3 linked regions of the Homo sapiens genome follow. The protein of the gene in region 1 interacts with the protein of each later gene in a pairwise test. Each region holds a gene or a part of one and is shown in the gene's direction. Other genes may lie near its edges.

What was found. The genes of interacting proteins can lie anywhere in the genome.
Region 2: the proteins of SCAPER (region 1) and GFAP interact in binary tests that used the Homo sapiens proteins (3 or more experiments, as listed by UniProt).
Region 3: the proteins of SCAPER (region 1) and BAG6 interact in binary tests that used the Homo sapiens proteins (3 or more experiments, as listed by UniProt).

The regions. Positions count from the first base shown.
Region 1 is NC_000015.10:76,762,332-76,769,367, reverse strand, and holds part of SCAPER (S phase cyclin A-associated protein in the endoplasmic reticulum), read left to right. Parts: intron 1-2,279; coding exon 2,280-2,450; intron 2,451-3,729; coding exon 3,730-3,805; intron 3,806-3,913; coding exon 3,914-4,031; intron 4,032-4,295; coding exon 4,296-4,407; intron 4,408-7,036. UniProt on the Homo sapiens protein: CCNA2/CDK2 regulatory protein that transiently maintains CCNA2 in the cytoplasm.
Region 2 is NC_000017.11:44,905,490-44,912,525, reverse strand, and holds part of GFAP (glial fibrillary acidic protein), read left to right. Parts: intron 1-728; coding exon 729-854; intron 855-1,069; coding exon 1,070-1,290; intron 1,291-1,867; coding exon 1,868-1,911; coding exon of another isoform or gene 1,912-2,057; exon of another isoform or gene 2,058-2,265; coding exon of another isoform or gene 2,266-2,390; exon of another isoform or gene 2,391-2,854; intron 2,855-4,376; coding exon 4,377-4,462; intron 4,463-5,137; coding exon 5,138-5,179; 3' UTR 5,180-7,036.
Region 3 is NC_000006.12:31,642,651-31,649,686, reverse strand, and holds part of BAG6 (large proline-rich protein BAG6), read left to right. Parts: intron 1-59; coding exon 60-177; intron 178-291; coding exon 292-488; intron 489-722; coding exon 723-776; intron 777-935; coding exon 936-1,010; intron 1,011-1,860; coding exon 1,861-2,096; intron 2,097-3,163; coding exon 3,164-3,293; intron 3,294-4,082; coding exon 4,083-4,280; intron 4,281-4,488; coding exon 4,489-4,741; intron 4,742-5,057; coding exon of another isoform or gene 5,058-5,084; coding exon 5,085-5,162; intron 5,163-5,272; coding exon 5,273-5,380; intron 5,381-5,492; coding exon 5,493-5,605; intron 5,606-5,709; coding exon 5,710-5,797; intron 5,798-6,571; coding exon 6,572-6,858; intron 6,859-7,036. UniProt on the Homo sapiens protein: ATP-independent molecular chaperone preventing the aggregation of misfolded and hydrophobic patches-containing proteins.

The DNA.
Region 1 (7,036 bases):
AGGTTCACGCCATTCTCCTGCCTCAGCCTCCCGAGTAGCTGGGACTACAGGCGCTTGCCACCACGCCTGGCTAATTTTTTGTATTTTTTAGTAGAAACGGGGTTTCACCATGTTAGCCAGGCTGGTCTCGATATCCTGACCTCGTGATCCACCCGCCTCGGCCTCCCAAAGTGCTGGGATACAGGTGTGAGCCACCACGCCTGGCCAGGTTGTTTGTTTTTTTCTTGTAAATTTGTTTAAGTTCTTTATAGATTCTGGATATTAACCCTTTGTCAGATGGGTAGATTGCAAAAATTTTCTCCATTCTGTAGGTTGCCTGTTCACTCTGATGATAGTTTTATATAAATTGAATTGTGTAAGCTTTGCTTGACTTCTTTCACTCAACATATTTATTTTGAGATTTATCCATGTAACACAATGTTTGTTCATTCACTTGCCCAAAGACATTTGAATTACATCTTTCTTTAATGAATAAAGATGCCACGAACGTTTTTGTGTACAACTTTATGTGAACATGTATATATATATTTTTTTTTTTTTTTGAGAAAATACCTAGATCAATTTTGTTGATAGTATTGTTCAGGTCTTCTATATCCTTGCTAGTTTTTTGGTTACTTTTTCTGTCAGTTGAAAGAGGGGTACTGAAATCACTGACTGTAACTGTGGATCTATTTCTTTTCTAACGACTGTATTGAGATCATAATTTACGTATAATACAATCCATCTGTTTGAAGTTTACTGTTGTTTTTTAGTATATTCTCCATAATCAGCTTTAGCACTCTTTCATCACTCTAAAAAGAAAACCCAGTGCCCATTAGCAGTTACTCCCTTTCACTCCTCCCACACCTGCCACTGCACTGCTTTCTCTCTATATAATTTTGCCTATTTTAGACATTTCATAGAAATGAAATGCAATATGTGGTCATTTGTGACTGACTTCTTAGCATATTTTAGAGGTTCATTCATGTCTTAGTTTGTCTCAGTACTTTGTTCTTTTTTGTGATCAAATAGTATAGTCCACTGAATGAATGAATATACCACATTTTATTTATTCATCAGTTGATGGACATTTAGGTTGTTTCCACTGTGCTATTATGAATAGCACTGCTTTAAGTATTTGCATAACAGTTTTTGTGTGGGCACATTTTTTATTTCTCCTGGATATATATCTAGGAGTGGAATTGTTGGGTTATATGAACTCTATGTTTAACCATTTGAGCAACTGTCAGACTGCTTTCCAAAGTGGTTGCATCATTTTACATTCTCATTAGGTTTATATTTTTTTGCATTTCTATAGGTTTTTGCCTTATATATTTTGAAGTTCTGTTAGGTCTATAAACATTTAGGACTGTTTTGTCGTCTTGATGAATTGACCCTTTTATTATTATAAATTGGTCTTCTTTATTCCTGGTGATATTTTTTGCACTGAAATCTGTGTCTGATGTTAATACTTCAGCTTTCTTTTAATTAGCATAGACCTTTTACTTGTAATCTGTTTTTTTCCTTCTAGGAAACATATAGCTCAGTCTTATTTTTTATCCAGTTTGATAATCTCTGCCTATTACATGTTAACATTTACATGTAATATAATTATTGACATAGTTTGTTTAAATCCACCATTTTACTATTTGTTTTCTCTGACTTGTGTTCTTCCTTCCATTTTTAATTTTTTAATAATTTCATTTTATCACCTTTGATGGCTTATTAACCACATGTTTGTTTTGTTATTTCAGTGTTTGATTTAGGGTTTCTAGTATACATCTTTAGCTTCTCATGAGGATTTATTAATTAATGAATCTCATGTATATTTTTATTATTTGCAGTGCATTTTTTAAAGTTAGGTGTATGTATGTTCAGAAAGCATCATCACCAGTACAGCATATATTCTTTCCATGTTCCCATTATAGTATACTATTTCGGTTTTATATTTAATGAGTATATTCAATCTATAATTGTTTTGAATTTTGGCACTCAAATGAAATTCACACTACCTGTTATTTATATAATTTCACAGTTTCTCATACGTAGCTGTCTGGTAAATAAGGCAAGTCATTGATTATTGTTCCATTTTATGGAATACCAAGTAGGTTCTTGGTTTTTAGAAGCTTCTAAGGCACACAGCTAGTAAGTGGATGAGCCTGTATGGAACCCCAGCTTTTATGATTCTAGATCAATACAATTTTATGTATACTGTTGAGTTCATGTTAGAACATAAAAAATGATTACTTTCCAGTCAAGTGATCATTTTTCTTTTTGTTTATGTGTTTTTAACTTTATAGTCCATGGCAGAAGTCCTTGCTAAAAAAGAAGAGCTAGCAGATCGTCTAGAAAAGGCCAATGAAGAAGCCATTGCTAGTGCTATTGCTGAAGAAGAACAGTTAACTAGAGAAATTGAAGCTGAAGAAAACAATGATATTAACATTGAAACTGACAACGACAGTGATTTTTCTGTGAGCTTTTAGACTTTTTAACATAACTATTCAAAATTTATATTTAGAAACAAAATTATCTGGGCCAGAAAGACTTGGAGTCCATCTAGTCCTATTTAGAATTATTTATTTAAAAATCATGTTCAGTAATCATAACTATTATTCTCAGGGTGATTTAGACTTACACAATAAACAATAGCAAATCTTTTGTTAGCACTTTACCATTACTATTTTCATGTATGATACAGTTGACAAGTTAGAAGTTGTTATTGTTATTTTACCAGTCAAGAAATTGAGTCTGGGCCGGTTGTGGTGCCACATGCCTGTAATCCCAGCACTTTGGGAGGCCAAGGCGGTAGGATTGGTCAAGGATAGGAGTTCGAGACCAGCCTGGGCAACATAGCAAAACCCCGTCTCTATTAAAAAAAAGTTAAAAAATTGAGTCTGACATAAAGTAAGAACTCCACATTACTGAGATTATAATTTATAGAAAGTGAAGATGAAGCTAAGGTATTTTACTTTTGTATTCTATTAACAAAAAGTAGGCTGGGTGTGGTGGCTCATGCCTGTAATCCTAGCACTTTGGGAGGCCGAATCAGGTGGATCACAAGGTGAGGAGTTCGAGACCAGCCTGGCCAATATGATGAAACCCCATCTCTACTAAAAATACAAAAATTAGCTGGGCGTGGTGGCAGGTGCCTGTAGTCCCAGCTACTTGGGAGGCTGAGGCAGGAGAATAGTTTGAACCCGGGAGGCGGAGGTTGCAGTGAGCTGAGATCGTGCCACTGCACTCCAGCCTGGGCGACAGAGTGAGACTCCATCTTAAAAATAAATAAATAAATAAATAAATAAATAAATGAGCAAATGATACACTACCTTCTGTTACTAAGTGCTTAGGATATATATGTTAATGATGGGAATTTGTTAAAGAATAAAATAACTTTAAATGTTTTACATATTGGTTTATTAAATTTTAATGCCAAACAATCTTCAATTCTTCAATATTTGCTTTTTATATGTTAGCATTTATGTAGTAATAGGATAAGGCCAATATATTTCTTAAATTTACTTCATTTGTCTCTGCTGTTAATGGCTGCTAGGCTCTTAAAATGAATAGGCTGTAGTATTTTAACTTGGCAATTATTTTGATTGTACTGGTAGGTACCTTTTTCCTGGTTTTCAACTGTTGGTTAAATAGAATATATTAACAATAGGTAGGACATTTTCATGTATAGTTCATTTTCTAAAGTTGTAATTGTGTTCAAAGATTTGATTTTCAACTTCCCTTATTACATTTTAGGCCAGCATGGGCAGTGGGAGTGTTTCTTTCTGTGGTATGTCCATGGACTGGAACGATGTCCTTGCAGATTATGAAGGTATTGTGTATATGCATATTGGGTGTGTAGTACAGTGTTCAAAAGTTTGTTCTCAAATGTTTTATAGACCTATGTGGCTAAACAATAATAGTATTTTTTTCTGAACAGCTCGTGAGTCTTGGCGCCAAAATACATCCTGGGGGGACATTGTAGAAGAAGAACCTGCTAGACCTCCAGGGCATGGAATTCACATGCATGAAAAACTTTCTTCACCCTCTCGTAAAAGGTCTGGCATTTGAAAATTAATTTGAAATGGTTCACAGCAAGGAAACTAGCCACTCTTGACTGTTAAATAAAATTGCTACGTGGCATTTTTGGACACATTACTTCAGGACAGTTTCAGATCCATTGAAAAGTAACAAAGCTTTCCCGAAATGTTGGGCCAAAATTAGTTTTGTATACTTTAAGAACTATGAAGTCTAAAGAACACTTTTTCTGGCCTTATCATGTAAACATTTCATGTCTCTTGTCCATTTGTTTGTATTAATAGAACAATTGCAGAATCTAAGAAGAAACATGAAGAAAAACAAATGAAAGCACAGCAGCTAAGGGAAAAGTTACGCGAAGAGAAAACATTGAAGCTTCAGAAATTGTTAGAAAGGGTGAGTTTTTATTTTTTAGGAAATTATGATAGTCTGAAGTTGCTGGGCTTATTTTCAACTCTACTTCTGGTCTGAGAGAAGCTAAAATAACCATAAAAATAATTAGATTTGCTAGGAAATAAAAGCATTTTAATCTATTGAATCCAAGAAGGTTAACTATTAAAAAATCGTCATTTTCAAATTATCTAGTAAATTGATATTTTGCAGGGTTTGCGTGGATTATTAAAGCTCTACTTTTGCCGTTTTCATTGGAGGGTTTCCTTGGGGAGGTTTGTCTAAAGTGTAGAATGACCTGGTAGGACAATTTGGAGCCTAAGACTATCAGTTTGTAGTGTGTTTGCCCATGGCCAGCCCTGGTCCTTGCTCTTGGCTCTGGTTTTTACTTCTGTTTATGTATCTGCAGCCAACTCCTTCAGCTAGAGGAATGCAAGCTACTGCCCTGTCCCACAGTTGTTGTCAATCCATGTCCATATGCAGTGGGCCAAATAGCCATGCACACACATGGCCACAGCTGGCCATGGCCCCCATTGCCACATGTATGCCTGCAACCAAACTCCACCTGGCCTCTGCCACGACCTGCCTTGGCTCCCACCTACCAGGGATGCTCACTTCTTAACACAGAGGTGCTGCTGGCAGCCACTGCCTACACCCTGTAGCTTTTGGAGCTGAGGACTGCCCTGTTACTGATATTGCCAACTCTAGCTCCCTGAGCTGCCACGCCAATGCATACATATAAACCAAGAGTTGTTGTACTTCCCCGCACTTTGGCACTCTGTGTGCCAGTAGGCTTAGTGCAACAGTATGCTCCTGCATTCCCCACAAGTCATTGCTCCCATCTGAGCAATTGACTATCCTTTCTGAAGCCAGTCCATAAAGACTGGAGAAGGTGACTGCTTCTTTAAGTGCATAGACAGCAATGCAAGGATACAAAGAACATGAAAAATCAGGAAAACTTGATACCACCAAGAGAACACAATAAATATCCAGCAAGCAACCCAAACAAATGAAGATCCATGAAGTCCCTGACAAAATATTCAAAATAACTGTTGAAGGTCAGTGAACGGTGAGAGAACACAGATAAATAATGTAACAAAATCAGGAAAACAACATAAAAACAAAATGAGAACATCAAGAAAGTGAAGCCGTGAGAAAGAACCAAACAAATTCTAGAGGTGAAGAATACACTGAAGAAACTAGAAAATGCAGTAGAGAGCTTCAGCAACAGACTCAGTGAAGCAGAAGAAAGAATCAAGAGAACTTGAAAACAGGTCATTTGGAATTACCCAGTAAGAGGAGAGAAAAGAATGAAAAAAATGAAGGAAGCCTCTGGGATTTATGGGACACTGTCATTGAATGAATATATGCATTATAGGGATTGAAGAGAAGCAGGCAGAAAGCCTTTTTTTTTTTAAAGAAATAACCCAAAACTTCCTAAATATGGAGAACAAAACAGATATCCAGACTCAAGCTCATAGAACCCCACAACAGTTAAAGAAGTCTACATCAAGACTTATTATAATTAAATTGTCAAAACTCAAGAGACAGAATTTTGAAAGCTGCAAGAGAAAGGCAACTCATCTCATACAAGGGAAACCTGCCCCCCCACCACCCCCCACCCCAGAAATGATCAGTGAATTTCTCAACATGAATCTTCCAGGCTAGGAGATAATGGGATGTTACATTCAAAGTACTGAAAGAAAAAAACAAAACCCTGCCAGCCATGATTACTATACCCTGGAAAGCTATCCTTAAAAATGGAAAGGAGATAAAGTCTTTCCCAGACACATGAAAATTGAGGGAGTTTGTCATCACTAGGCTTGCCTGAGAAGAAATGCTAATGGAGTTCTTTAAATGGAATAGAAAAAATGATAAACACCAATGTAAAAGCGTATGAAGGAAAGTATGTAAAGCTCAGGAGTAAATGTACAGTCAAATATAGAATAACATAATACTGTAAGGGTGGTACAGAAATAACTGGTAACCCCAATATAAAACTTTAAAGAAGGCTGTGTGTGGTGACTCACACTTGTAATCCCAGTACTTTAGGAGGCTGAGGTGGGAGGATCACATGAGGCCAGGTGTCTCACACCAGCCTGGACGACATAGCAAGACTTTATCTCTACAAAAATAAGGAACAACAAAAAAATTATCAGTTATGGTGGTAGGCACCTGTAGTCCCAGCTACCTGGGAGGCTGATGCAGAAGGATCGCTTGAACCTGGGAGTTTGAGGCTGCAGTGAGCTAGGATTGCACCATTGCACTGCAGCCTGGGAAATAGAGCCGCATCCTGTTACTAAGGTAGAGTGGGGGAGGGGACTTAAAAGACAAAAAGGTATTAAGGGTAAGTATAATGACAAAAAATTGATAATGGATTCACTGTATGAAAAATAGTAAACTCTGACTTCAAAAACACATAGTGTAATGGTAGGTAAAAGTGCAGAGTTTTGTAGGCCATTGAATTTAAATTAAATTCAAATTAAATTAAAGTAGACATCAAATTAAAGTAGACAGTTGTAACCACAAGGGCAAACCTATTGTAAATACACAAATGCTAAAGAGAAATCAAACCAAACCATTAGAAAAAAAAAAAAAAGCCCACAATCAAATAACAAATGAAGATAGCAATAGA
Region 2 (7,036 bases), on another chromosome or scaffold:
TGAGTGGCAGAAGCCACTGGTGTCTGAGCAGGGTGAGGGCCCGATGGGGCTGGGAGGACCTCCCTGCAGGCAGGGGAGAAAGGGCTATTAGAACCCAGGGTGAGGCCAGGCGAGGTGGCTCACACCTGTAATCCCAGCACTTTGGGAGGCCGAGGCATGCGGATCACCTGAGGTCAGCAGTTCAAGACTAGCCTGGTCAACATGGTGAAACCCCGTCTCTACTAAAAATACAAAATCAGCCGGGTGTAGTGGCGCATGCCTGTAATCCCAGCTACTCAGGTGGCTGGGGCAGGAGAATTGCTTGAACCTGGGAGGCAGAGGTTGCAGTGACCCGGGATTGTGCCACTGACTTCCAACCTGGGCGACAAGAGCAAGACTCTGTCTCAAAATAAAACAAAAAAAACAAAAAAACAAAAACACACAAAACACCCAGGCCTCCGCTCGCCTAAGACGACAGCGTTCAGTCCCGCAGATGCAGCTGTCAGTGTGGAAGGTTCTGGATTCTGTGGCACTGTTCATTCATTCGCTTGCTGACCAGGTGTTGTGCTAGGTGCTGAGGTCTGGCAGCCCGCTACCCTGCCCGCATCCATGGGTCACAGTTGTTGGGAAAAGTCCCAGCCAGGGCCAACGTCCTGGGGTTAACTGGGGTGCTGCTCACCTCCCTGATTTCCCAGAGCCCGTGCCTGCCCATGGGCCCACACAGCCCCCCATATGTGTCCCCCACCTAGTTTGCAGACCTGACAGACGCTGCTGCCCGCAACGCGGAGCTGCTCCGCCAGGCCAAGCACGAAGCCAACGACTACCGGCGCCAGTTGCAGTCCTTGACCTGCGACCTGGAGTCTCTGCGCGGCACGGTGAGCGCGGCCAGGGCAGGACGGGGACGGGCGGAGCAGGGACGGCCACCCCAGGAGATGCCAGGGGAGAAGGGCCAGGGACGAGGACCTGGGTCGAGGGCGGGGCCTGAACGTTACCCCCGGGCTAGAGGCGGGGCCTGGGGCCGGGGGCCGGGCCTCGAAACCTCCCCAAGTCGGGTCGGGGCTCCGCGGGACCGGCCGGCTCCATCCCACAGAACGAGTCCCTGGAGAGGCAGATGCGCGAGCAGGAGGAGCGGCACGTGCGGGAGGCGGCCAGTTATCAGGAGGCGCTGGCGCGGCTGGAGGAAGAGGGGCAGAGCCTCAAGGACGAGATGGCCCGCCACTTGCAGGAGTACCAGGACCTGCTCAATGTCAAGCTGGCCCTGGACATCGAGATCGCCACCTACAGGAAGCTGCTAGAGGGCGAGGAGAACCGGTGAGCCCTCATCACAGCCCCTGGGGAAGTCTCCCTGCTGCCTCACGGTAGAGCTCATCTTGCTCCCTTCAGGGACTGAGTCTTTTTCAGCCTTGTGTGCAGATCCCTTCCCACCTCAATGCCCAGCACAGTGCCTGCCTCACACATAGCAGGCAGTCACTAGATGTTTGATGACTGAATGGATGGATGGATTCAACCAATATTGATTAGGCCTCAAGGCCAAGGACTTGGGTCACCCTCCAAACTAAGAGGCATACTCCCCATCTTCCCAGCCAAGATTGGACTCCTCACCTCACCCATCTCTTCTGCCTCCTTGGAACTTTCTTCACCACTTTCCCCTCCCTTTTCCATCTTCCTTCAGATAGACATGCGCCCCTCCCAGATAACACTCAAGCCCCTTGCAGACGTTTGGAACTCCAGATAGCACGTTGGCTGCTGGGGAAAAAGCTAGGAGATGGAGTTAGACTTTCCTGGCAAGGAAAAGGGCGTTCAAGTTGTCATGATGGCCCCGCACCAAGACCCAGCCTAGGGGTGTCCCAGGCAGCCCGGGCAGCCCTCTCCCTCTGCTTTCTTTCAGGATCACCATTCCCGTGCAGACCTTCTCCAACCTGCAGATTCGAGGTCAGTACAGCAGGGCCTCGTGGGAAGGGCACTGGAGTCCTGCCCCCTCCTCCAGGGCCTGTAGGTTGCTCCAGACTGGGACTGAGGATCAGGGCAAAGGGATCCAGCTCTCCCTGGGGGCCTTCGTGACACTGCAGCGCTCCTAGCCAGAGCCTATCATACCAGGGTACTTCTAGGTGGGGCTTGCAGCTGCCCCTGTCCTGCTAGGCCCTGGTCCCTCTTCCCCTCCCTGCACCCCATTCGACAGCAGAACTGGGTGAGAGCTTGACATCTGCCCTGTCTGCAGATCCCTGAGCAAGCACTGCCCTTCTGAGTGTTTTCTGTTTTTGTTTTTTTAACTGCTTGTCACTACAGGGGGCAAAAGCACCAAAGACGGGGAAAATCACAAGGTCACAAGATATCTCAAAAGCCTCACAATACGAGTTATACCAATACAGGCTCACCAGATTGTAAATGGAACGCCGCCGGCTCGCGGTTAGCTGCCTGCCTCTCAGACACGGCGCTTTGCCCAGCTTGACAGGGAGTGAGCCTCACCCACCCCATCCTCCCAATCCCCCTGAGTTCCCTCTTCCCAGGCTTCCCCTAAAGGGCCTGGACTGCGTCATTTTCCCAGGAACTGCAGTGCCCAGCCCAGGACGTGGTACAGAGTAACTGTACATTAAACTGGCAGAGCTTGTTAGTGGTAAAGGTGGTGAGTCCTTGGGTGCGCAGTGGAGCTGCTCTGGGGCCTCTGAGCAAGCAGCAGCCTCTGTCTCACCTCTTCCTGTCACTGGGAGGGCCCCTTGGGTCTCGCTGTGCCTGGACGCCAGGCTCTCTGCTTTATTCTTTCATCCCTGAGGCTCCATCGCTCAGCTCAGTGCTGACTCAGTTCAGAGGATTCTTCCCTCAGGACCGCAGCTCTTGCAGTGAATAAAGTTTTATGTTCCCTGCTCTTAATGTTAAATATTAGTGAATGTGACGTGTTATATTTTTCTCTCTCGGGCGGGGCGGGGGGAGGGGGGAGCTAAATTACTTTTTACTTGCATTGGCCCTGAAATGATTCTTAGCTAAGGAACAAAATTCCTCTTCTTCTGGACTAGAATATTTAGGACCACTAGATATGCATGTCTCAGGACTTAATTCAGCATCAGAAAGGCTAACCAGGCTGACTAGTAGAGGTAATACTGCCAAATCCTAGATAGTCACAGGTCACTAAAGCACAGATAAATGGCAGAGAGAAGTAGGAAAGAGGAAAGGGGACAGGAAAGGGACCTATGTGTATTGAGCACTAATATGTGCCACATGTTTAACAGCCTTTATTTTAGTTAATTGTCTCCTCTCTCCCACCTAGAGAAGTAGGCCCCATCATCCTTATTTTACAGATGAGGAAACTGAGGCTGGGAGAGGTCAATTAACTTGCCCAGAGTCATGTGGCTGGTTGGTGGCTAAGTTGGGACTTCTTGAGCTCTGGTCTCCTGATCCTTCCTTCCTTCCTTCCTTCTTTTCTTCCTTCCTTCCTTCTTTCCTTCCTTCCTTCGGCAGAGCGTCCCTCTGTCACTCAGGCTGGAATGCAGTAGTGCAATCTTGGCTCACTGCAACCTCCACCTCCCAGGTTCAAGCAATTCTCGTGCCTCAGACTCCCGAGTAAGGGGATTACAGGTGCGAGCCACCACACCTGGCTAATCTTTCTTTTTCTTTCTTTCTTTCTTTCTTCCTTCCTTCCTTCCTTCCTTCCTTTCTCTTTCCTGCTTGCTTGCTTGCTTGCTTGCCTGCTTTCGACGGAGTCTTACTCTGTTGCTCAGGCTGGAGTGCAGTGGCACGATCGCAGCTTACTGCAACCTCCGCCTCCCAGGTTCAAGTGATTCTCCTCTCTCAGCCTCCTGAGTAGCTGGGACTACAGGCACCTGTCACCATGCCTGACTAATTTTTGTATTTTTAGTAGAGACAGGGTTTCACCATATTAGTCAGGCTGGTCTCAAACTCCTGACCTCAGGCGATCCACCTGCCTCGGCCTCCCAAAGTGCTGGGATTACAGGTGTGAGCCACCATGCCTGGCCTATTTTTTGTATTTTTAGTAGAGGTTTCACTATGTTGGCCAGGCTGGTCTCGAACTCCTGGCGTCAGGTGATCCACCTGCCTCAGCCTCCCAAAATGATGGCATTATAGGTGTGAGCCACCGCACCCCTCCTGGTCTCCTGATTTCAATACCGTGCTGGGTTTTCAGAAAGCCAGGTGCCAGGCCAGGGCTTGCAGAGGGGCTGAAATGAAGCCAGGCCAGAAGACAGAGCAGCCAGGACTCTGGCAGCAGCACTATTGGGATTTGGGGGCTCTCCAGCCCGTTTGGAAGAGCCTAGGCTCTCTCTGCTCGGTTGCATAGGTTCTCATACTCATGATGGGGAGGGGGGTGCGATGGGGAAGCCGGGCATGGGAGAGGATGGCTCATGCCCTGAAAGTCCATGAGAGGCCTCCTCTCCCCACATCTGCAGAAACCAGCCTGGACACCAAGTCTGTGTCAGAAGGCCACCTCAAGAGGAACATCGTGGTGAAGACCGTGGAGATGCGGGATGGAGAGGTAAGGAGGGATTTGGGCCCAGTCAGGCTCTGGCTGGCCCCAGGGATTCTCAAGGCCAGGCCATGGAGGAAAGCCTGGGGCTGGCACATAGAAGGTTCCCAGCAACTCCCAGTAGCTCCCCAGGGAATTCTGGAGGAGAGCAAGGAAACTGAATGTAATTCCGTTTCCTCAGTCCCTCCATAGGCTGTTCTAAGGGGAGCCTTGGTACCAAAGCCACTAGATGGGATCCTAATACACACTCTCTCTTTCTCACCCTCAAACTCGGGGGCCTTGCTTGCCAGGGAGAGAAAGAGAATTAAAGTTAGTAGCTTTCACTTCCAACTCTAGCAGACACAGTTGGGGATGGGGAGGGCTTTCCATTTCCAGCTTGGTAAAAGGAAACTACCAGGGGAATGGGAAGAGGGGATTTGGCGTATCCGCCACGCCACTCCAACCACAGTGGGAGCTCATCTTACTCCAGCAGCTTACCACTCGCCAGGCATGACGCTAAATGCTTTCCCAGTGTTATCTCACCACCCCCTCTGTCCACCACGCAAGGCAGCTGTGGTTACTATCAAGAAAAGTAAGACCTGGGAAGTCGGGGACTTCCCAAGGTTACACAGCCTCGTGGTGGTGGACCTGGGGTCTGTGTGAACTCCTAACTGTTGCACTGTGCACGTTCCCTGTCCCCTGCAGGTCATTAAGGAGTCCAAGCAGGAGCACAAGGATGTGATGTGAGGCAGGACCCACCTGGTGGCCTCTGCCCCGTCTCATGAGGGGCCCGAGCAGAAGCAGGATAGTTGCTCCGCCTCTGCTGGCACATTTCCCCAGACCTGAGCTCCCCACCACCCCAGCTGCTCCCCTCCCTCCTCTGTCCCTAGGTCAGCTTGCTGCCCTAGGCTCCGTCAGTATCAGGCCTGCCAGACGGCACCCACCCAGCACCCAGCAACTCCAACTAACAAGAAACTCACCCCCAAGGGGCAGTCTGGAGGGGCATGGCCAGCAGCTTGCGTTAGAATGAGGAGGAAGGAGAGAAGGGGAGGAGGGCGGGGGGCACCTACTACATCGCCCTCCACATCCCTGATTCCTGTTGTTATGGAAACTGTTGCCAGAGATGGAGGTTCTCTCGGAGTATCTGGGAACTGTGCCTTTGAGTTTCCTCAGGCTGCTGGAGGAAAACTGAGACTCAGACAGGAAAGGGAAGGCCCCACAGACAAGGTAGCCCTGGCCAGAGGCTTGTTTTGTCTTTTGGTTTTTATGAGGTGGGATATCCCTATGCTGCCTAGGCTGACCTTGAACTCCTGGGCTCAAGCAGTCTACCCACCTCAGCCTCCTGTGTAGCTGGGATTATAGATTGGAGCCACCATGCCCAGCTCAGAGGGTTGTTCTCCTAGACTGACCCTGATCAGTCTAAGATGGGTGGGGACGTCCTGCCACCTGGGGCAGTCACCTGCCCAGATCCCAGAAGGACCTCCTGAGCGATGACTCAAGTGTCTCAGTCCACCTGAGCTGCCATCCAGGGATGCCATCTGTGGGCACGCTGTGGGCAGGTGGGAGCTTGATTCTCAGCACTTGGGGGATCTGTTGTGTACGTGGAGAGGGATGAGGTGCTGGGAGGGATAGAGGGGGGCTGCCTGGCCCCCAGCTGTGGGTACAGAGAGGTCAAGCCCAGGAGGACTGCCCCGTGCAGACTGGAGGGGACGCTGGTAGAGATGGAGGAGGAGGCAATTGGGATGGCGCTAGGCATACAAGTAGGGGTTGTGGGTGACCAGTTGCACTTGGCCTCTGGATTGTGGGAATTAAGGAAGTGACTCATCCTCTTGAAGATGCTGAAACAGGAGAGAAAGGGGATGTATCCATGGGGGCAGGGCATGACTTTGTCCCATTTCTAAAGGCCTCTTCCTTGCTGTGTCATACCAGGCCGCCCCAGCCTCTGAGCCCCTGGGACTGCTGCTTCTTAACCCCAGTAAGCCACTGCCACACGTCTGACCCTCTCCACCCCATAGTGACCGGCTGCTTTTCCCTAAGCCAAGGGCCTCTTGCGGTCCCTTCTTACTCACACACAAAATGTACCCAGTATTCTAGGTAGTGCCCTATTTTACAATTGTAAAACTGAGGCACGAGCAAAGTGAAGACACTGGCTCATATTCCTGCAGCCTGGAGGCCGGGTGCTCAGGGCTGACACGTCCACCCCAGTGCACCCACTCTGCTTTGACTGAGCAGACTGGTGAGCAGACTGGTGGGATCTGTGCCCAGAGATGGGACTGGGAGGGCCCACTTCAGGGTTCTCCTCTCCCCTCTAAGGCCGAAGAAGGGTCCTTCCCTCTCCCCAAGACTTGGTGTCCTTTCCCTCCACTCCTTCCTGCCACCTGCTGCTGCTGCTGCTGCTAATCTTCAGGGCACTGCTGCTGCCTTTAGTCGCTGAGGAAAAATAAAGACAAATGCTGCGCCCTTCCCCAGAGTGGACTCTGATCTGTTCATGAGAGGGCGGGACTGGGGCCAAGATGTAGCCTTTGACAAGACCAACTCATTTCTTATTACTGATCATCTCTGGGGCCCATGCCCTCACCAAATTCCACCCGCAGCCAAAGAGGA
Region 3 (7,036 bases), on another chromosome or scaffold:
TCTTTGTTCTTCCTCTTTCCTCCATTCTTTCCATTCCTGTGCATGCCTCTTCTTTTCAGATGAATGTAAAAGAGTTTAAGGAGCACATTGCTGCCTCTGTCAGCATCCCATCTGAAAAACAACGGCTCATTTACCAGGGACGAGTTCTGCAAGATGATAAGAAGCTTCAGGAATACAGTAAGGGGGCTGGGGAGGCAGTTCAGAGGTTGGGGCTACTGTCTGGAGGGATGAACTGAGGCCATGGGTTTACCTGTTCATACTATGTTTTGGTGTGTGTCTATTTTTCTGCAGATGTTGGGGGAAAGGTTATCCACCTGGTGGAACGGGCTCCTCCTCAGACTCACCTCCCTTCTGGGGCATCTTCTGGGACGGGGTCTGCCTCAGCCACTCATGGTGGGGGATCCCCCCCTGGTACTCGGGGGCCTGGGGCCTCTGTTCATGACCGGAATGCCAACAGCTATGTCATGGTTGGAACCTTCAATCTTCCTGTAAGCTTATGTTCCACAGGGGAGGGCTTTTGTGGGTAGCTTTGGTTGTGGTAGCACCAGGGAATTAATAAGATAGATGCTTCCATCTTTAGATTGGGTTCAGGGGGCCCTGTGGTGTGCTATTGGTCTCAGTCTTTAAGGAGAAAAGGAGGTAGGGCTCCAGGGAATGAATTGGAGGTGTGGAGGCCTTAGTGTTGGCTTCTCCCAGAACAACTTCCCTTACCCTTTCCCCAGAGTGACGGCTCTGCTGTGGATGTTCACATCAACATGGAACAGGCCCCGATTCAGGTATTGAGGGGCCTCCGAGGGTCAGGGAAGGGGATCTGGGAGAAGGAGGCTGGGAGGTGGGGTGGACCTGGCTGAGAGATGGCTGGGACCTGATTTAGTAGGTGGTAGAACTCATGGCTTCATCTGTAACCTACCCTGATAAACCTTCTCTCATTGTAGAGTGAGCCCCGGGTACGGCTGGTGATGGCTCAGCACATGATCAGGGATATACAGACCTTACTATCCCGGATGGAGGTAAGTGGGCAAGGCTGGCTAGGGTCTCTCTCCACCCTCCCTCTCCCTTTTCTCTCAGCCTGGGAGTTAGGGCTTCACTGGCCACATCCACAGGGTTTGGCCTTCATAATCTAGTCTTCTCTGCAGTATTCATTCTTTTGGGCAGAAAAAGTATCTTTGTGAGGCTCTCTCATTTCTGCCAATCCTCTTGGTGCCTGGTATCTGGGGAGTTTGTTTCAGACTTAGTCTCATGGCATCTCTTTTCAATTAAAGGATTCTACTCTCTTAACTTGTGGAGGCTGGGAAACCAACTTGTGGAGGAAAGGAAACCACAATCTCTACTCTTTGTTAGAAATTTATTTACAAATATTACAGATGCTGTGGCCGGGTGTGGTGGCTCCTGCCTGTAATCCCAGCACTTTGGGTCGCCATGGCAGGGGGATAACGTGTGGTCAGGAGTTCCAATCCAGCCTGGCCAACATGGTGAAACCCTGTCTCTACTACAAGTACAAAAATTAGTTGGGTGTGGTGGCACGCGCCTGTAGGCCTGGCTACTTAGAAGGCTGAGGCAAGAGAATTTCTTGAACCTGGGAGGCGGAGGTTACAGTGAGCTGAGATCATGCCACTGCACTCCAGCCTGGGCAACAGAGCGAGACTCTGTCTCAAAAAAAAAAAAAAAAATTACAGATGCTTATTATGCATCTAATTTGTGTCAGTCTTATGCTAGTTGCTAGCGAGTCGGAGATAAAATTGCAGAGCCATGCCTTCAGGGAGTCTAGTTAGGATACTTTCTCTGTTCAGTCTCCTGTAGAGTAATCCTCTGCAGCAGTCTTACCCTGCCTTTGGTATCCTGACTCTCCCCTACCTTCAGTGTCGAGGAGGGCCCCAACCGCAGCACAGTCAGCCGCCCCCGCAGCCACCGGCTGTGACCCCGGAGCCAGTAGCCTTGAGCTCTCAAACATCAGAACCAGTTGAAAGTGAAGCACCTCCCCGGGAGCCCATGGAGGCAGAAGAAGTGGAGGAGCGTGCCCCAGCCCAGAACCCGGAGCTCACTCCTGGCCCAGCCCCAGCGGGCCCAACACCTGCCCCGGAAACAAATGCACCCAAGTGAGAGATGGAGGGAATCTTTAGTGGGTGGGGAATCCTAAGTGAAGTATGGGGAGAAGGAAATGAACCATGGCAAGGGAGGGAAAGGATTACTTGGAGGTCTTAGTTGAAGGGTTAGCATTGAGGGGCGAGGAGGGGCTCTCTCGGTATAGGTAAATGACGCTAGGACAGGCAGCTGAGAAGAACTGCTGCTCTCCCTACGGCAAGGAAATCCAAATGGTATCTCCTGAGCCTGATCGGAATTCTCCTCTGAGTTCACGAAGGCCTGCTCTCTTTCTTAGAATTAGTCTTTCACCATTGTAGGTGCAGGATTGTGGTGGGGAGGGTGGGAGCAGTTCATTTTCTTCTCCCTATCCTCTCATGGGTGGGAGTAAAGAATAGAAGCTTTGGCTGGGTGCAGTGGCTCATGCCTGTAATCTCAGCACTTTGGGAGGCAGAGGCGGGCAGATCACCTGAGGTCAGGAGTTCGAGACCAGCCTGGCCAACATGGTGAAACCCTGTCTCTACTAAAAAATACAGGCCGGGCACAGTGGCTCACGCCTGTAATCCCAGCACTTTGGGAGGCCGAGGCGGGTGGATCATGAGGTCAAGAGATCGAGACTATCCTGGCTAACATGATGAAACCCCGTCTCTACTAAAAATACAAAAAATTAGCTGGGCATGGTGGCGGGCACCTGTAGTCCCAGCTACTCGGGAGGCTGAGTCAGGAGAATGGTGTGAACCCAGGAGACGGAGCTTGCAGTGAGCTGAGGTCGCACCACTGCACTCCAGCCTGGGTGATAGAGCGAGACTCTGTCTCAAAAAAAAAAAAAAAAAAAAAAAAACAAAAATTAGCCGGGTGTGGTGGCAGGCAACTTAATCCCAGCTACTTGGGAGGCAGAGGCAGGAGAATCGTTTGAACCTGGGAGGCGGAGGTTGAAGAGAATAGAAGCTCTGCTGGTCCAGAGAAGGATTGGGCCAGGGCTCTGGGAGACCAGGGAGAAAGAGGGCACATGTGGTCCCTGTTGACTGTGAGGGTGGGAATCTGAGGAAGGCTTTGGCTCATTGCCCCTTGGGTTTGTCCACAGCCATCCTTCCCCTGCGGAGTATGTCGAGGTGCTCCAGGAGCTACAGCGGCTGGAGAGTCGCCTCCAGCCCTTCTTGCAGCGCTACTACGAGGTTCTGGGTGCTGCTGCCACCACGGACTACAATAACAATGTGAGCCCTTTGATGGCCCTGCCCTTTCTCCTCAGCCCCAGTACTCCCAAAACAGAACAGGCTGAAATGCAGATAACTCTTTCCCTCCCTGGAAAAACATTGCAACAGGGCCAGGTGCAGTGGCTCACGCCTGTAATCCCAGCACTTTGGGAGGCCAAGGTGGGCGGATCATCTGAGATTGGGAGTTTGAGACCAGCCTGGCCAACATGGTGCAACCCCATCTCTACTGAAAATATAAACATTAGCTGGATGTAGTGGTGCACACCTGTAATCCCAGCTACTCAGGAGGCTGAGGCAGGAGAATCGCTAGAACTCGGGAGGAGGGGGTTGCAGTGAGCCGAGATTGCACTACTGCACTCTAGCCTGGGTGACAGAGCGAGACTGTCTCAAAAAACAAAACAAAACAAAAAAACACACATTGCAACAAAACAATTTCTCTCTAAACCTGTAAGTGATTTTGTCCTCCCTTACAGAGAAGGTGATAATCTTTGCTGTAAGCACTGTCCTCGTATCGTACCCCTTGTGCCCCTGAATGAATTTAGAAAATGTAAAGTACAGGAGATCAGTATATGATGACTTACTGATTCATAGTAGTGTTTTAATAGGATGTTCCTTATGTGAATAAGATATAATTTATTTGCAAAGATTTGGTCTACATGTAAACTTCCAAGGATATAACTGAAAGTTTTGGAGGACATGGTATTCTCAGTAGGCATTATTGCTTTTATTAGTGAGATGGACTCCAGCTTGATATTTTCTGCCTTTTTGTGTTTGGCTGGTTGTGCGCAGCACGAGGGCCGGGAGGAGGATCAGCGGTTGATCAACTTGGTAGGGGAGAGCCTGCGACTGCTGGGCAACACCTTTGTTGCACTGTCTGACCTGCGCTGCAATCTGGCCTGCACGCCCCCACGACACCTGCATGTGGTCCGGCCTATGTCTCACTACACCACCCCCATGGTGCTCCAGCAGGCAGCCATTCCCATACAGGTGGGTTAGGGGGAGTCTGGCCTGAGGGAGAGTGAGGGGTGTTGATAGAGTGACCCAGGGTAGCTACTGGGCCTGAAGGAGGTTAGGAAAGGAGGAGACTGGAAACATGGTGATGAAGGCTGGAGATACTTTAGAGGTTTATCATGAGGTTTTCTTGGTTAGGCTCTTGTATTTTTCTCACATCTGCCTGTCCATCTGTCTTTTTCAGATCAATGTGGGAACCACTGTGACCATGACAGGAAATGGGACTCGGCCCCCCCCAACTCCCAATGCAGAGGCACCTCCCCCTGGTCCTGGGCAGGCCTCATCCGTGGCTCCGTCTTCTACCAATGTCGAGTCCTCAGCTGAGGGGGCTCCCCCGCCAGGTCCAGCTCCCCCGCCAGCCACCAGCCACCCGAGGGTCATCCGGATTTCCCACCAGAGTGTGGAACCCGTGGTCATGATGCACATGAACATTCAAGGTGAGAATAGTTGCTGGCGAGAAGAGCAGGATCAGCATGATGAGGGAGGTTCATGCTGAGGTGTGAGGGAACAGGGTGGGGAAGGGAGAGGCACATGCTGGTGGTGGTAGCCTGGGGACCAGAGCAGAAGCTTAAGTAGACAGATGTGGGGGGTGTGGGGGTTGGTTTGTCTTTGGAGGTGTGTTTGTGTGGTGAAGGGAGTACCTCTCCCTGTTTAGATGGAGGGAAAGGCAGGCTTTCTGATTGGGGGATTATGGGCCTGAAGTATGCCTGATCTCAGAAGGATATAGTTAGGCCTTGGCCCTACCTACCTCAGGGCCACTGTCTCTGTCTCCCTGCCCAGATTCTGGCACACAGCCTGGTGGTGTTCCGAGTGCTCCCACTGGCCCCCTGGGACCCCCTGGTCATGGCCAAACCCTGGGTAAGAGTGAGGGCATCAGGGCAGGCTGAGCTCTGGGTAGAGAAAGGGAAGGGCTGAGTGGGTGGGTTGAAGGGGTCCAGGTTCAAGGTTACATCAGACCCGCCCCCCAGGCTCCACCCTCATCCAGCTGCCCTCCCTGCCCCCTGAGTTCATGCACGCCGTCGCCCACCAGATCACTCATCAGGCCATGGTGGCAGCTGTTGCCTCCGCGGCCGCAGGTAATGACCTGGAAGGGGAGGCTTGGGAGGTAGGGCACAGTCCATGGTGGCAGCTGGCTGGCAAGGGCCTGGCCCTCAGCCCTCTTCGGTCTGTCTCTTCTGCCACCCACAGGACAGCAGGTGCCAGGCTTCCCAACAGCTCCAACCCGGGTGGTGATTGCCCGGCCCACTCCTCCACAGGCTCGGCCTTCCCATCCTGGAGGGCCCCCAGTCTCTGGGACACTGGTGAGCAAGGGTCGGGGAGTTCTAGTGCGTAACAGTCTAGGGAGAGACTCCTGTGGTGGTGCATGGAAGGGCAGGTCTGAAATTCTCCCTTGCTCTCTATCCAGCAGGGCGCCGGTCTGGGTACCAATGCCTCGTTGGCCCAGATGGTGAGCGGCCTTGTGGGGCAGCTTCTTATGCAGCCAGTCCTTGTGGGTGAGTTTTCATTCTTCCCCACTCAGAGTTTAAACTCCTTTCCTAGTCTGCTCACTGGCACTTTCCAGTTCTTTCCATATTTTCTTGGTTCCTGCTTTCCTGGAATGGGGCTGCTGTAGTGTCTTGTGTCTTCAGGTTTCAGCTTTTTTTTTTTTTTTTTTTTTTTTTGAGATGGAGTCTCACTCTGTTGCTAGGCTGGAGTGCAGTGTACAATCTTGGCTCACTGCAACCTCTGCCTCCCGGGTTCAAGTGATTCTCCTGCCTCAGCCTCCTGAGTAGCTGGGACTACAGGTGCACGCCACCACGCCCAGCTAATTTTTTATGTTTTTAGTAGAGAAGGGGGTTTCACCATGTTGGCCAGGATGGTCTCGAACTCTTGACCTTGTGATCCACCCACCTTGGCCTCCCAAAGTGCTGGGATTACAGGCTTGAGCCATCGTGCCCGGCCAGCTTTTTTCTTTTTTTTTTAAGTTACAGAGTCTTGCTCTGTCACCCAGACTGGAGTGCAATGGTGCAATCCAGTGAGTTAAAGCTCACTGTAACCTTGAACTCCTGGGCTCAAACAGTTCTCCCACCTCAGCCTCCTGAGTAGCTAGCAGTACTAGCTCCTGGCTAGTAATTGTCTTTTTTTTTTTCTGGTAGAGATGGGGTCTTGCTATGTGGCCTAGACTCCTGGGCTCAAGCAGTTCTCATGCCTTGGCCTCCCAAAGTTGCTAGGATTACAGCCAAGAGCCACCATGCTCAGCCCAGCTTTCTTTTTTTGGTTTCTTACAGCTCAGGGGACCCCAGGTATGGCTCCACCGCCAGCCCCTGCCACTGCTTCTGCCAGTGCTGGCACCACCAACACAGCTACCACAGCTGGCCCCGCTCCTGGGGGGCCTGCCCAGCCTCCACCCACCCCTCAACCCTCCATGGCTGATCTTCAGTTCTCTCAGCTTCTGGGGAACCTGCTAGGGCCTGCAGGGCCAGGGGCTGGAGGGTCTGGTGTGGCTTCTCCCACCATCACTGTGGCGATGCCTGGTGTCCCTGCCTTTCTCCAAGGCATGACTGACTTCTTGCAGGTGAGTGGCTGGCTTGCCATTCACCTCATCTTCCTGTCCCCCGGCCCAGCCAGGCAGTGGTACCTTCTTGCCATTATATAACCACTGGGTAAGAGCCCCTAGTGACATGTTAGGGGAAGGGGCCCTGGGAATTCATTGACTCTGAACCTTTCATTTTAAAGATGAAGAAAATGAGGTT